4 linked regions of the Homo sapiens genome follow. The protein of the gene in region 4 purifies or fractionates together with the protein of the main gene of each other region. This does not show direct contact. Each region holds a gene or a part of one and is shown on either strand. Other genes may lie near its edges.

Region 1 (3,671 bases), on a different chromosome or scaffold from region 4:
GCTGAGGCAGGGGAATTGTTTGAACCTGAGAGGCGGAGATTGCAGTGAGCCGAGATCGCGTCACTGCACTCCAGCCTGGTGAGAGTGAGACTCCGTCTCAAAAAAAAAAAAAAAAAAAATTGTTTCGGTCAGGCACAGTGGCTCATGAGTTGTAATCTCAGCACTCAGTGAGGCTGAGCGGGGAGGACCACTTGAGCCCAGGAGTTCGAGACCAGTGTGAGCGACATGGTGAAACCCCATCTCTACTAAAAATACAAAAATTAGCCAGGTGTAGTGGCCCACGCCTGTGGTCACAGATACTTGGGGAGCTGAGGTGGGAGGATGGCTCCAGCCCTGGAGGCAGAGGTTGCAATGAGCCAAGATAGTGCCACTGGAGGCCAGCCTGGGTGACAGAGCAAGACCTTGTCTTAAAAAAAAAAAATTGTGTCCTGCTAGAAATAAACACTGAAGAGTTTATTTTGTATCTAAGATTAGGTGTCTTTTACTATCATGAAAACAGTAAATGGATTACAGAAAACAACCAAACAGTAGCCCACTTATTTTTTTCTCTTGGTATTCCACTCACAAATTATAAACAGGAAATGTACATTGTGTTTTCTAACGTTTTAAAAACAGCACACTTTTGTATGACAATCTTGACTTCGTTTTTGAAAACTTACTTCATTAAAATAAATTTTTTTTAGAGACAAGGTCTCACTGTCTTGCCCAGGCTGGTCTTGCACTCCTGGGCTCAAGCAATTCGCCTGCCTCAGCCTCCCAAAGTGCTGAGATTACAGGTGTCAGCCACCACACCTGGCCTACTTCTAATAGTTACAGAAATGTATATACTTAAGACCTAAGAAACTATATAAAGAAGCAATTAAAAAAACCTACCGTCCATTCTTATCCTCCATCTGAAGGTGGTACTGAATAGAATCGGTTGACAATGTCTTTGGAGTTCCTTCTCCCCATTTCAGCTTAAGGTTCTGGTGGCTAAAGGCAACACATTCCAGACGAGGTGGATCAGGAGGGAGAGGCTTAGTTTTTAATTTTATCATATGGCTGAAAGGACCAGCTCCAAGGCTATTCAAGGCTTGAATTCGTATTCTAAGTGCCACATAAGAAAAAAAGTTTGGTTATGATTGTTTTATTTAAAGCGTCTCTCTGGTCTAGGCAAAAATCAACATAATTTTTAGAGTATACCTGTATGTTGTATCTGGTTGCAAATTGTTGATAATATAGCTTGTAACCTTTCCCACTGTTAGGGATTGTTTATCTCCAAAGTCTATGCTGTAGGCAAGGATTTCCGAACCATGATCACAAGGCTTTTCCCAGCTTATTGCAAGGCATGTAGAAGGTGAATAATGGGGATTTTCTATCTCATCATCGCTTATTTCTTGAAGACAGGTCACAATGCCAGGAACTGATGGTGGAGTCACACAGGCTACTACTTCACTGAAAGGGCCTGCACCCACAACACTCAGAGCCTACAAATTAACAGAGCCTCCGAGTTAACAAAGTCATGACCATGAAAATGCCAATGAAATATAAAACTCTGGATAGAGTTAAGTGACAAGGTACTGATCATCTTTACCTGGACCCTGCAATAATAGGTAGTTGCTGGTGAAAGTCCTTTTATTTCATAACTGAGACCAGGCCCACAGTAACATATCTGCATACTTCCTTCAACTCCTCCCCACTCCAGTCGATATTCAGTGACATCTGTTCCATTACTCAAAGGAACCTTTAAATTAAGAAAAGGATAAAGGTCTTAGTCTTGATGTTGATTAAATAGCTTTTGGCCAAAAATGCTCTTTACCTGAGCACATGTAAAACTAGATTGCTTTTGAGTTTCTTTAAAACTTTTAAGCACAATCAAAACTGTTCAATTTTACATTTTTTATTCATTAAGATTATCTGAATTTAAGATTGGTCAAATATATAACTGTTTTGAATTAGAAGTAGAAATATGACTAAGTCACTTTAGAAAGAGTGTTTTAAGGTAAATATGTTTCAAGATAATTCTATTAATATGAAATGTTAAAAGCATACACACATTTTGTTAAATTTCAAAGGGAACTGAAAATATAATAATTATCATCACTGATTATTACTATCCACAATAAGTACACTGGAGATGTGTACTGGATAAATATAAGAGAAATAGAATTTACTAATTCCTGTGTATGTCTATTCTGAACATTAAACTTACAGTGGCTGAAATATCTCAGTACTGAGACAAAGCCATTCATAAAAATACAAAGCACATAATGAACAGGAATCTAAATATTTGTAATGCAAATATACCTTACTCAAATTCTTCAAAGAGGAAAAAGAAGTCACTGTTTTTCATGTGAATTAAACTAGGGCTTACTCTGTATAATATAGGCGGTAAAAATGAACAGTATCTTTATTCTTTTATATAAACTATTCTATTCACTTAAGAAAGTAGATACAAGTCAATGGAAATTACAATACCTCCCAATTCACTTGTGCACAAGTTGCAGATCTACATGTCACTTGAGGGGGCTTGCACTGATCTGGTGGCCCAGGGGCTGTAGTAATATCACATTTTTCTGAAAATGGTCCAAACTAGAAAAACAAATGTAACTAGTGTTTTTATTTTTCACCCTTAAATGTCCACTGATTGCACAGAACTGCATATTTAAAGATTCATTAATAAAGTCTTTTCCCTGTGTTTCAAGATTAATTTGGTCATAATTCTATAAGTATTCACATTAACTAAAAAGACTTAAAAATCATGAAAGTAAAGGTGTGAGAAATTTTAAAGTTTCATTTACCTATACTTTCTTCTGCCCCTTATTTCTTCAGGAAATGGTTTTTGTAAGAAGGGCAGGACATTAGGGAATGAGGTCGGTGGAATAATTCAGGAGAAATATAAGGAGTGAAGAAATTGATACTAATTAAAGGTACGGGAGATGGTAGGTGTAAATTATTATTTTTAATTTTTTAATACTTCACGAATCTTTCTTAGGCATATTCCATATCAAATTTTACCAACATTCTGTTCTATAAATTTGTTTATTTTGTAACAGAATTTGATTTTTCTGTTCCATGCTAAAAAGCTCACTTTCTCATAATTACTTTTAACATACATTACCCGGAATATAAAAAATTTTATTCAGTATTGGCAAATTCCTTCCCCGACACATAGGAGAACAATTACAGAAATTTCTTGTCATCAATTTTTCAAAGCTCATTAGCAAAAGAAAAGCCCCAATACACTGGTATTTTCACTTAACAGTGGCGCATCATTATAATGGTCAGAAGTAAACCTACTTGTTACTGCACTGTATCAGGCAGTTTTGCCAAATGCCCATCTTTAAGAGCTAGCTCAACTTCTTTTTTTTTTTTTTTTTTTTTTTTTGAGACAAGGTCTGGCTGGCTCCATCACCTAGACTGCAGGAGTGCAGTGGTGCAAACATGGCTCACTGCACCCTCGACTTCCTGGGCTCAAGCCATCCTCCCACCTCAGCCTCCTGAGTAGCTGGGACTACGGGTGTGCACTACCATGCTGGGCTAATTTTTCTACTTTTTACAGAGACAGGGTTTCACCATGTTGCCCAGGCTGGTCTCAGACTCCTGGGCACAAGTGGTCCTCCTGTCTCAGAGGGAGGACTGCTTGAGCCAAAGTGCTGGGATTACAGGCATGAGCCACTGGGCCCAGCCAG
Region 2 (3,671 bases), on a different chromosome or scaffold from region 4:
GTACCATATTGGCCAGGCTGGTCTTGAACTCCTGACCTCAAGTCATCTGCCCGCCTTGGCCTCCCAAAGTGCTGGGATTACAGGTGTGAGCCACCATGCCCAGTTGGTATTTTGTTTTGATTTTGCATTTCCCTGGTGACTAGTGATGTTGAGTGTCTTATGATGTGTTCTTTGGCTTTGGTATACTTCTTTGGAGAAATGTCTGCTCACATCCTGTTCCCATATTTAAAATGAGTTGTCTTTTTATTATTGAGTTGTAAGAGTTCATCTATTTTTTTTTAATGTGCTTTTGGTGTCAGAGAAACTAATGCCTAATCAAAGTGTATGAAGATTTATTTCTGTGTATTCTTCTTAGTGTTTTGTAGTTTCATATCTTACATTTAGGTCTTTGATCCATTATGAATTAATTTATGTATATGATGTGAGGTCATCATTCTTTTGCATGTGTTTATCCAGTTGTCCCACACTGTTTGTTGAAAAGACTATTTTTTCCACGTTGAATTGTCTTTGTAAAAAAATCTATTATAGCCAGGCGCAGTGGCACGTGCCTGTATTCTCAGCTACTGAGAAGCTGAGATGGGAAGGTCGCTTGAGCTCAGGACTTGGGGTCCAGCCTGGGCAACATAGCGAAACCCTGTCTCTGAAAAAATAAATACATTTTAAAAAGCCTCTTGACCATAAATTTAAGGCTTTATTTCTGGACTCAGTTCTATTCCATTGATATGTTTAGTCTGATGCCATTACGTAGTTTTGTAATAAGTTTTGAATTCGGGAGTGTGAGTCCTCTGACTTTGTCCTTTTCAAGGCTGTTTATCTACTCCTAGTCCCTTTAGTTTCCATATGAATTTTGGGGTCAGTGTGTCAGTTTCTGCAAAGAAGCTAGCTGAGATTTTTGACAATGATTGCATTGTATCGCCATATTAATTTGGGAGCACAATTTTAGTCTTTAAATCTGTGAACATGAGATGTCTTTCTCTTATTTTAGTTCTTTAATTTCTTTCAACAATGTTTTATAGTTTTTGGTGCACAATGTTTAAACTTCTCTTGTTAAATGTATTCTTAAGTATTTTATTATTGTTATTTTTTTGATGTTATTCTTTCTTCTGCCAGTCCAAATCTGCTGTTGATCCCCTCGGGTGAATTTTTCATTTCAGTTCTCATACTTCTCAGTTCTTGAATTTCTATTTGGTTCTCTAAAAAAATAATATATTGATATTCTCCATTTTACTAGAGATATCTAGGCATATTTTGCTATAGTTCTTTGAACCTGTTTATAATAGCTGATTTAAATTCATTATCTAGTAAGTCCAATGTCTGGGCTTCTTCATGGATAGTTTCTATTAAACTGCTTGCTTTTTCTATGTACTGGCCATACTTTCCTGTTTTGGTGTGTTTTTTGTAATTTTTTTGTTGAAAACTGTACATTTAAAATAATGTGGCAACTGTGGAAATCAGATGCCCTCCTCCCTGGGTTTATTGTTGCTGGCTCTTTGTTGTTGTTGTTGTTGCTGCTGCTGTTTGTTTACTGCGTTTCCTGGATTAATTATGTCATTCCTTGTTCAGTGAGGTCACTGAAATCTCTGCTTGCTTACTTTAGTGGGCATCTAATATTTGGACAGAGATTTACTGAAGTGCTTTGAACAGCCAGTCTCCTAGCTTTTGCTGAAAGGCTCTGTATGTGTGTGTTAGGGGATGTTATTAACACTCCAACAGGCAGTTACAAGTCTGCCTTCACTACCTGTGTGTACAGGTCAGCCAGAGGTAAAAGATTACAGCCTCTTAGATCTTACCTGGGCATATGCATGGTCTTATACATATGTGTGGCCTTCAAGATTCTCTTATGTTGGAACTTTTCAAAGTCTCCTGTGGACATCTTACTCCCCAGTTTTCCCTTTTAAACTTCTTGTTCTGTCTCTTAGCACCAACTGATATCACCATCTCAGGCGCCTTCAGTGTTAAACAATTTTTGCTAAATATTTTTGGAAAATTTGCTCTGGCTCCTCTAATAGTTGTTAGGCTTCTGGCTTTCACAGCTGCTATAGTTGTCATGCTGTTGGTTTCCGGGGCTACCATGGATTTGGGGAGAGGAGGATGAAAGAAATACAACTTACACTACCACAAAGCTTACTCTTCTTACCAAGATTCAGATTTCTTTTTCTTGAATTAACTCTCCTTAGATTGTTGCAAGCCTTTGGTTAATCTTCCAGAATTTTGAAAAAGTTGACATTAAGATTGTTGCTACTGTTTTCATTTTTTGGAGGAGTGAATTTTTGTAGGTTCTTACTTCATTCTTCAGGGCAATCGCTTCTGTTACCTTGCCCTCCTTTTTCACCATGGACAGTGGTAGAGCATGATAACCCCAGCCACCCTGAACCAGTTACCTCTGTACTTTTAGCTGGAATGCAAGCTGTCTTGTACTAACTAAGAAGTTAAACTAATTTTTTGTACTGTTGAAGTATGTTATTTATAACAATCAGGAAATGCTTTCTCATTTTAGCTCAAGGATCTAAATTTACTTGATCGCTGTATAAAAGAAACATTAAGACTTAGACCTCCTATAATGATCATGATGAGAATGGCCAGAACTCCTCAGGTGAGTATCTTGGCTACATCTTCCCCTCTATACCCCCAGTTTTTATCAAAAAGAAGAAATAGGTGGGTGTGGTGGTTCACACCTGTAATCTCAACACTTTGGGAGGCTGAGGTGGGAGGATCACTTGAGGCCAGAATTTGAGACCAGCCTGGGCAACATAGTGAGACTGACCTCATCTCTACAAAATTTTTTCTAAAAATTAGCTGGCCATAATGGCACATGCCTGTGGTCCCAGCTGCTTGGGAGGCTGATGTGGGTAGATTGCTTGAGCCTGGGAGGTTGAAACTGCAGTAATCCATGATCACGCCACTGCATTGCTGCCTGGGCAACAGAGCAAGACCCTGTCTCAAAAAAAATAAAAATAAAAAAGAAAGAAAAAGAAAAGAGGAAGTAGAGTAGCATAAAAGAGATTTTTTTAAATTAAAAAAGTAGAATAATCACTTCTACCTAATCTTCAGTTTTATATACTCTAAAAACATATTTTTACCTAATTGTAGATAGTATACGTGCTAATCTGTTTTTTTTTTTTTTGAGACGGCATTTCACTCTTGTTGCCCAGGCTGGAGTGCAGTGGTGCGATCTCAGCTCACTGCAACCTCCGCCTCCCGGGTTCAAGCAATTCTTCTGCCTCAGCCTCCCAAGTAGCTGGGATTACAGGGGCATGCCACCATGCCTGGCTAATTTTTTGTATTTTAGTAGAGATGGGGTTTATCCATGTTGGTCAGGCTGATCTCGAACTCCCGACCTCAGGTGATCCACCCGCCTTGGCCTCCCAAAGTGCTGGGATTACAGGTGTAATCCCGCGCCCGGCCTACATGCTAATCTTTAATGCTAATCATGTTCTGCATTTTTCTTTAACAATTGGGGTTTTAAAAATCAAAGTACATATTTTTCTTGGTTTTAAAAATAACATTTTGTTGTAAAAAATTGTTAATATGAAGTGTACAAATTGATAGTGAAAGCCTCTCTGAAATTCCAACCCTACCTCCAAGGCATTATGGGTTTGATTTGTGTACTGTGTACTTCCAACCCAACGCTGGCTCACTGGAAATCATCTTGAGTTAAAATAATTTTTAGT
Region 3 (3,671 bases), on a different chromosome or scaffold from region 4:
TCTACCTCTTTCCCGAGCCCTGCCCCAGGAGAAGCTGGGCTCTGGAGTTTCTCTCCAACTCATTTCATGCTGAGCTTCAGGGAGTGGTCATGGCAACTGCTTGTGTGCTTGTTCAAACTTCTGTCACATTATCACTGGCCCCTAGATATCTAGGGCGTTTTAGATTCCATCAGTGCTACAAGGCTGGCAAGACAGAAGCCAGTTCCTAGGGCAGCTCTTAGAAAAGTTGGAATGTTAGATACACAAGCCAAGTTTTTCCTTCCCCAAGGAGTGGTGGGGAGCTGCAGGTGTTCTTATGATCATATGGTGCTGTATTGGGGGTACATAATTGCTCTCGCAGATTATGGCAAGAGGGTGTCTCCAGTCTTCTACCAGGTTTGATGTTGTTCATTTCGTACTTGTGCAGGTGCAGAAGCATTGCACCTAGTTTCAGGATTTCTCACAAAGGGAATTCGTATATTATCGTTGAATCAGTGTGTTCATGTGGGGAAGGAGGGTTTAGGGCGTCCTATTCTTCCATCTTGCTGATGTCAACCTGTTACTTATTTTTCCTAAATTGGAAAAATGTAAATAAAATACTCATTTTGGAAACAAAATTATCTGACTTTAGTGGCTCTTTGAACTGGGTTTGAGAAGTACAGACAAACTCAACACTCTTATCTTAACATTAAAGTAGATATCTCAAGTCCCCTTTTAATACTTTTAGCTTGGAATACTTTCTAGTCTGTAGGGATAATTAATTTCTTTTTCTATTTCTGCATATCAAATATTGCTTTAAAGATTCCCTTCAGCTGTGTTACTTAGAGATTGAATAGGGAAATATTTTGTCTTTTGATTAACAGTTTTAGGCTAAAAAAATTAGATAAGTATGCCTTTGGTTTGTGTAGCAGACAAACTTCATGTTAGATAATTCGTGAATTTGTAGTCCATTCAAATGTTTATCTTCCAGTTTTCAGAGGGGTTTTTTGTTTGTGTTAGAATTCTTTCAAGTCATTTTATATTTTTATGAATTATTTGAGAAGAATACTTGTTAATCTCAGCCTGTATTTTTATTGTGAATGTGATTACCTATTATTGAGGGGCATAGTCCTCTGGGTGTTTCTAATTCAGCATCAAATAATTATTTCTTTATAGATACATATGTTACATACATATTTTACACATAAGCACACACACATCTTGCATATATAGATATGTATTTATATGTGTATAAACATGAATAATATTTATGTTTGTTATATACATTTATCTTGTATATTCCTGTTTATATACATATAAACATGTATATCCATATCTGTGCAGTAGTGTATAAAGTACCTTGAATTCTTTTCAACTTAGAATACTCAGAGGTCTTAAGGAATTATATTTCTTTAAATATTGAATAAGATTTACTTGAATTTAAAATTTTTTATTTTGCTAACATTTGGAAATGCTTTAATGGTATTTGTTAAGAAATGATGTAGCATGGTTGTTGACTAGCATGCAGTGTTCTATTAATATATTTGCCTTTTGGGGTTTCACAATTACACTATTATAAATCTTTTTGAGAGTACATTTTAGTCAGTATAGTATATATATTTTTTCTTAGTTTTAATCAAAAATAAAATCATTGGGAAATATAACCACTTGTTTTCCAGTTACTTATTATAGAAAGAATAAGTTAAGAAATGTGAATAAATTGAACAAATTAATAAAATATTTGTTAATAATCCACCTTATGGAGGATTTAAAAATAATTTTAATTATAAAATAATGTATTTTAATATAGTTCAGAAATAAAAGTGTTGCTCCCTCTCCACTATCAGATACCTCAGGTACATTCTTAGGGTAGTTAACAGCTTCTTAAATAGCTTCTCAGATATGTTCTGTGCATATACAAGTATATACGTATGAGTATGTATATGAGTGTATGATGGAATTGTACATACACAAGATCTACATATATTCTTTTAAAAAGTACTAATGTACTTTTATATTGTACTTTTATAAGGTATTGTGTTTTATAAGGTATATGAATTAAATATATTGTCCATATACATTGAGAAAATTGGGTAAATTGATGTGCATAATAAACATGTCATCTCTTTATGTTTATTTGAAGTTTTTTTCTGATTGTTCTAGTGGCATAGAAGTAAAGTTTCTTTAATACAGTTTAATAACATTATATTTTAAAACTTTATGAAAACAGAATTTTTAATTTGTGTAAAAGATTTTACCCTTAATACATGTTCTTAATATCCATCATACTGAAAATAGTGGGCTATCTTTGGTTAGCAGGGTTATTGTGAATGTTGTATATGGGAAGGGCAGGCATTCTGTTATTTCAGTACTGTGATACCATGTTGTTTGAGGTGGGTCTTTTTCTAAGCAATGGGCATGTTCTACTTTTATTAAAGTGATGATAGAAAATGACTTTAAAGCATGTAGTGACATAAAGTTGTTAGGAGATATAACTAATGCTAAATGACGAGTTAATGGGTACAGCACACCAACATGGCACATGTATACGTATGTAACAAACCTGCACGTTGTGCACATGTACCCTAAAACTTAAAGTATAATTATAATAGAATTAAAAAAAAATAAAGTAGTAGTTTTTAAAAAATCCTCAAAACTGAGCTCATTGTGTGGTTTTACTAATTTTGGTTTTAGGCTTGTGCAGACATAAGAGCCAGTTCAGTGTTTTGGCAGCAAATGGAGTTCGTTGATAGCCTGCATGGCCAACCCAAGATGCCAGAATGGTTATCTACACACCCTTCTCATGGCAATCGAGTTGAGTACTTGGATAGACTTATACCTCAGGTGAGCTGACACCGTAGAAGGCGGGACATTATTTTTACTGTATCATTTATTTTTAATGCTGTCACTTCTTTTGCTTAGTAAAAGAGAGTTCTAGCCTATTAACTATTTTGATTACTATAATTATGGATTATCAGTTGTCACAGAATTTGACTGAAAAGCAAAATTCTGCTTGTCCACAAGTCTTGGAGAATAAATTACTATGTACAGTTGACTTTTCTTAATAGTGAAGGTTTAACTCCTTTAGTATGAGACTTTAATTTTAACTGACTTGATGAAAGTTTAAAACTCAAGGCATATTAAGTTTTTTAAACATGTTGATGATAATTTAATCTTTCCTTGGTGATTTAAGCTTTTTGTTAAAAATACCAGTTAATGAGTTGTACAGAAGTTTTGGGTCAAGTGGATATTAATTGTAGTAGTGGTACTGGAATTTGTTTTTTTAGGAAAAAAAATCTTCATGTTTGTTTCTGGTTATTTATTTCTTTATGAAGATAAGAGTGAAGCATTTGCTCTCTGGCTTTTCTTTCTGTAGAATTCATAAGTGGGTCAAGCTGAGGCGGCTTTCTGCCAAGTAGTTTTCAGTATCCTCTGAAAATCTTTTGATTTGTTGACATCATTCAGAATGTTTTTATGGTTTCCATATCAGGACAAAATGGATGTTAGGCATCTCTGAGCCACGTTACACGCTCTCTTCTATCTCACTTGTATTAAATTTGGTGGCTTGTTATGAAAGCGGAACATTTTTTAGCAATTTAAGAATTGGTACTGGGCCATGTGCTAAGGCATAGCACAACAGATCCAGGTGTATTATAGAAGTATCTTTCTCATGCCTGTTATCCCAGCATTTTGGGAGGCTGAGGTGGGTGGAT
Region 4 (3,671 bases):
GGACAGAAGAGCACCAGGGCAGAGCGGAGAGGTGGGTATGGCTGGGCCCTGTGCTTCTCTGTGGGGGCGGACGATTGTTAGTTGTTCATCAGGACAAGGAAGGCCATGGGTAGCGTGGGAAGGAGTTTGCATTTGACCCCATAGGTGTCAGGGAACCACTCAACAGGGGGCTTAGGTGATCTGACTTGCAGTTTTAGAAAGTTCACTCTTTCAGAGCTAGTGAGTGTGGGTTGGAAAGAGATTAATGAGGTGTCGAGTAAATCCCAGGTAGGGGTGATGGTGGCCCAATCCAAAGTTACAGTAGCAGTGATGGAGGTGATGGGATCTGAGTGGCATTAGGAAGAGCAGCTTGATGGGACTGCAAGCCAGATTTAAACAAACGACTGGCAGGAGGGGAAGGGCTTGACCATGTGAATGGGAAATGGCATTTTAAGTTTCTGGAAGTGACTTGGCGACAATGTGGAGTCAGGAATGGGTGAGGGGCCTTTGAAGTTGCTATGGTATGAATGGAGAATGCAGGATGGACTTGCAGAGTACAGAGGCCCGGAACCCCTGGCTTGCTTACTCATTCAGCAAATCATTTACTCCGTGCCAGGCACGGTTCTGGGTTCTGGCAATACAGCCGTAAACAAAACAGACAACAATTCCTGCTCTTGTAATAGGGGACAAGAATTTTTAAGTCAATAATATAGGAGGATCGCTGGAGCCCACGAGGTCGAGGTTGCAGAGAGCCGTGATTGCACCACTGCATTCCAGCCTGGGCGACAGAGTGAGACCCTGTCTCTAAGAAACAAAAACCAGGCCTTCAAATAGGGGAGATCTAATAGAGGGGACAACAGGGGAGTCAAACCATAAATAAGTAAAATAGAAAAAGTGTTTTGTGAACAAACATAAAGCAGGAAGGGGATACAGCAGATGGGGTGTACGAGTGTGAGAAATCTTATCTAGGGTGGCCAGTCACTGGGAGAAGGTTGCAGGAATTTTTAGCATACTGCTAGGATTTTGGAAATAATCTAAAAAGTGAGGGGCCAGGCATGGTGGCTCATGCCTGTAATCTCAACACTTTGGGAGGCCGAGGTAGGCGGATCACCTGAGGTCAGGAGTTTGAGACCAGCCTGGCCAACGTGGTGAAACCCCATATTTACTAAAAATACAAAAATTAACCAGGTGTGGTGGCAGGTACCTGTAATCCCAGCTACTCGGGATGCTGAGGCAGGAGAATTGCTTGAACCTGGGAGACGGAGGTTGCAGTGAGCCAAGATTGCACCATTGCACTCCAGCCTGGGCGACAAGAATGAGACCCTGTCTCAAAAAAAAAAAAAAAAGTGTGAGGGACAGTTATTAAAGATATGGAGAAATGGGCCGGGCGTGGTGGCTCATGCCTGTAATCCCAGCACTTTGGGAGACCGAGGTGGGCAGATCAGGAGGTCAGGAGTTTGAGACCAGCCTGACCAACATGGTGAAACCCTGTCTCTACTGAAAATGCAAAAATTGGCTGGGTGTGGTCGCAGGCGCCTTTAGTCCCAGCCACTTGGGAAGCTGAGGCAGGAGAATCGTTCGAACCCAGGAGGTGGAGTTTGCAGTGAGCCGAGATCGTGCCATTGCACTCCAGCCTGGGCGATAGGGCGAGACTTTGTCGCCAAAAAAAAAAAAAAAAAAAAAAAAAAAAAATGAAGAAACGGTCTGATTAAGGTGAGGGACCTTCCACAGCATTTGGGATGAAACCGCTAGGCCTGAGGGAACCGTGGCTGTTGTATTCTGCCTTGGGCCACAAGCAAAAAATGGTGAGACGTGTTATCTCGAGCTGTTGGCTTTTCCTGTCATAGATACAGGGTCACAAAGACAGAAAATGAAACTGTTAGAAAATATCTACAGGCATCTTCTTTTCCCGTGTAAATATTAGGAAGACAGAATGAAGATGCTCCTCCGCTCTCATCCACACCCATGGTCATATCTCTGAAGAGGGGAATACCAGGGAGTGATCACATTGTCAGATGCAGAAATTAAAAAAGCTTTTTTCCCCAGCCAAACTTTATGCTTGTGGAGCAACTTGGGGAGGAGACCCGCTGGTATGCATTTGGGCAGATTGTCACCTGTTGGCCACCTCTGTGATCGAGACCTTTGCCTTAGAGGAGTTCCTATGTAGACCCTGTCTGGTGGGCCGACAGACCGACAGTGGACGGAGGCATTCTGTATGCGTTAGCCTCTGCAAACAAACACCTGTCTCATGCCGGAAATCTGGGCGCCCCATTAACCCTGAGCACGGGCCTGCCAGCTGACAGAACCCTAGCCAGGTGTTGGTTTGGGGTTCAGTTGCATGCTCAGGTGTTCCCCTTCCTTCCCCCGTTAGCTTGTCCCCACCTAAGCCTGCAACCCTTGCCACTGGGATGCTAACCCGTTAGCAGAGCTCAGTCTCCTTGCTTGGAAATTCTGTGTTGACCTGCACTGCATTCTTTTTTTTTTTTTTTTTTTTTTTTTTTTGAGACAGAGTCTGGCTGTGTCACCCAGGCTGGAATGCCATGGCGTGATCTCAGCTTACTGCAACCTCTGCCTCCCAGGTTCAAGCGGTTCTCCTGCCTCAGCCTCCCAAATAGCTGGGATTACAGGTGTGCGCCACCACGCCCGGCTAATTTTTGTATTTTTAGTAGAGATGGGGTTTCACCATGTAGGCCAGGCCGGTCTTGAACTCCTGACCTCAGGTGATCCACCAGCCTCAGCCTCCCAAAGGGCTGGGATTACAGGCGTGAGCCACCACGCCCAGCCTTGACCTGCATTCTTGAGCAGGATCTGTTATGCACGTGGAAATACAGCCTCTCAGATAGCAAATGGCAGAGATGAGATGAGGCACACAGTTCCCCTCCACAGCTGGGGTGGGAGACAGAAAACAGCAGTAGAGTCGACACTCAAGCTGCCCCCAGTGACCATTTGTTCAGGCTCTTTGAGACCTGGCTTACAGTGACAAGGACACAGCTGTTAATTCTGAAGACAAGCTTTCGAGTAGAAGTAACCTCTGGTAAAGCAAGAGAAGGTTAAGGTTTGCTGAATTGCCAATGGGATGAAGAAGGAAGGGAGGGCTGTCTTTTCAGGTAGAATGCCTAAGGAAGGGAAACATGGAGAAGGAACAATTAGAGCAAGTCAAGAAGTTTCAAGATTTTTGTCTTCTGGCCAGCTTGGTGAGATAGTAATTATGTTTCTGCATATTGGTCAGCGTTGCCTATGTACTTTGCTGTGGAATAGTAATCTTGGAAAAAAACCAACCAACCAACCCACATTAATCTGTCCATGTCTGGGCACAGAGTGTGCAGAAGCCTGCGTGGGCCGTAAGTCTCGTCTTTGTCTTGGTTGGTGATTTTAGTATTGGTGTTTTTGCTGGAATTCCAAAACTGTAAGAGTGTAATCATTCACCATTAGAATTCTGCAGGTCCCCTCCTGACTCTGGACTAGCTGAGCTTAGGGGCCTGTCATCCATCTGGCCCTGGGCATATCATTTGTACTTTGCCTGTGACACACCTCAAGACCTTTTCCAACAGGAACTAGCATCCCTGGAGGGAATTTTGTGAAGAGATGAGAGTTTTTGAAACAGGAAGGGAACTGGCAAGGGAAGTGGCCAGGCACCGGTGCTGCCGCGGAACAGAAGGGAAGGGACTGGGCTGCATCAGAGGGTGGATGTG

Evidence for each region. Proteins that work in one complex are often made in the same cells at the same time.
Region 1: the proteins of ADCY9 (region 4) and FNDC3A purify together in Homo sapiens (co-immunoprecipitation; 2 studies listed by BioGRID and IntAct, with this or other methods). This does not show direct contact.
Region 2: the proteins of ADCY9 (region 4) and CYP51A1 purify together in Homo sapiens (affinity purification with mass spectrometry; one large-scale study listed by BioGRID and IntAct). This does not show direct contact.
Region 3: the proteins of ADCY9 (region 4) and OMA1 purify together in Homo sapiens (affinity purification with mass spectrometry; one large-scale study listed by BioGRID and IntAct). This does not show direct contact.

Annotation. Positions count from the first base shown.
Region 1 is NC_000013.11:49,195,777-49,199,447, reverse strand, and holds part of FNDC3A (fibronectin type-III domain-containing protein 3A), read right to left. Parts: intron 2,572-3,671; coding exon 2,458-2,571; intron 1,724-2,457; coding exon 1,574-1,723; intron 1,467-1,573; coding exon 1,183-1,466; intron 1,087-1,182; coding exon 874-1,086; intron 1-873. UniProt on the Homo sapiens protein: Mediates spermatid-Sertoli adhesion during spermatogenesis.
Region 2 is NC_000007.14:92,117,442-92,121,112, reverse strand, and holds part of CYP51A1 (lanosterol 14-alpha demethylase), read left to right. Parts: intron 1-2,497; coding exon 2,498-2,593; intron 2,594-3,671. UniProt on the Homo sapiens protein: Sterol 14alpha-demethylase that plays a critical role in the cholesterol biosynthesis pathway, being cholesterol the major sterol component in mammalian membranes as well as a precursor for bile acid and steroid hormone synthesis.
Region 3 is NC_000001.11:58,505,191-58,508,861, reverse strand, and holds part of OMA1 (metalloendopeptidase OMA1, mitochondrial precursor), read left to right. Parts: intron 1-2,652; coding exon 2,653-2,802; intron 2,803-3,671. UniProt on the Homo sapiens protein: Metalloprotease that is part of the quality control system in the inner membrane of mitochondria. Activated in response to various mitochondrial stress, leading to the proteolytic cleavage of target proteins, such as OPA1, UQCC3 and DELE1.
Region 4 is NC_000016.10:4,106,361-4,110,031, reverse strand, and holds part of ADCY9 (adenylate cyclase type 9), read left to right. Parts: intron 1-3,671. UniProt on the Homo sapiens protein: Adenylyl cyclase that catalyzes the formation of the signaling molecule cAMP in response to activation of G protein-coupled receptors.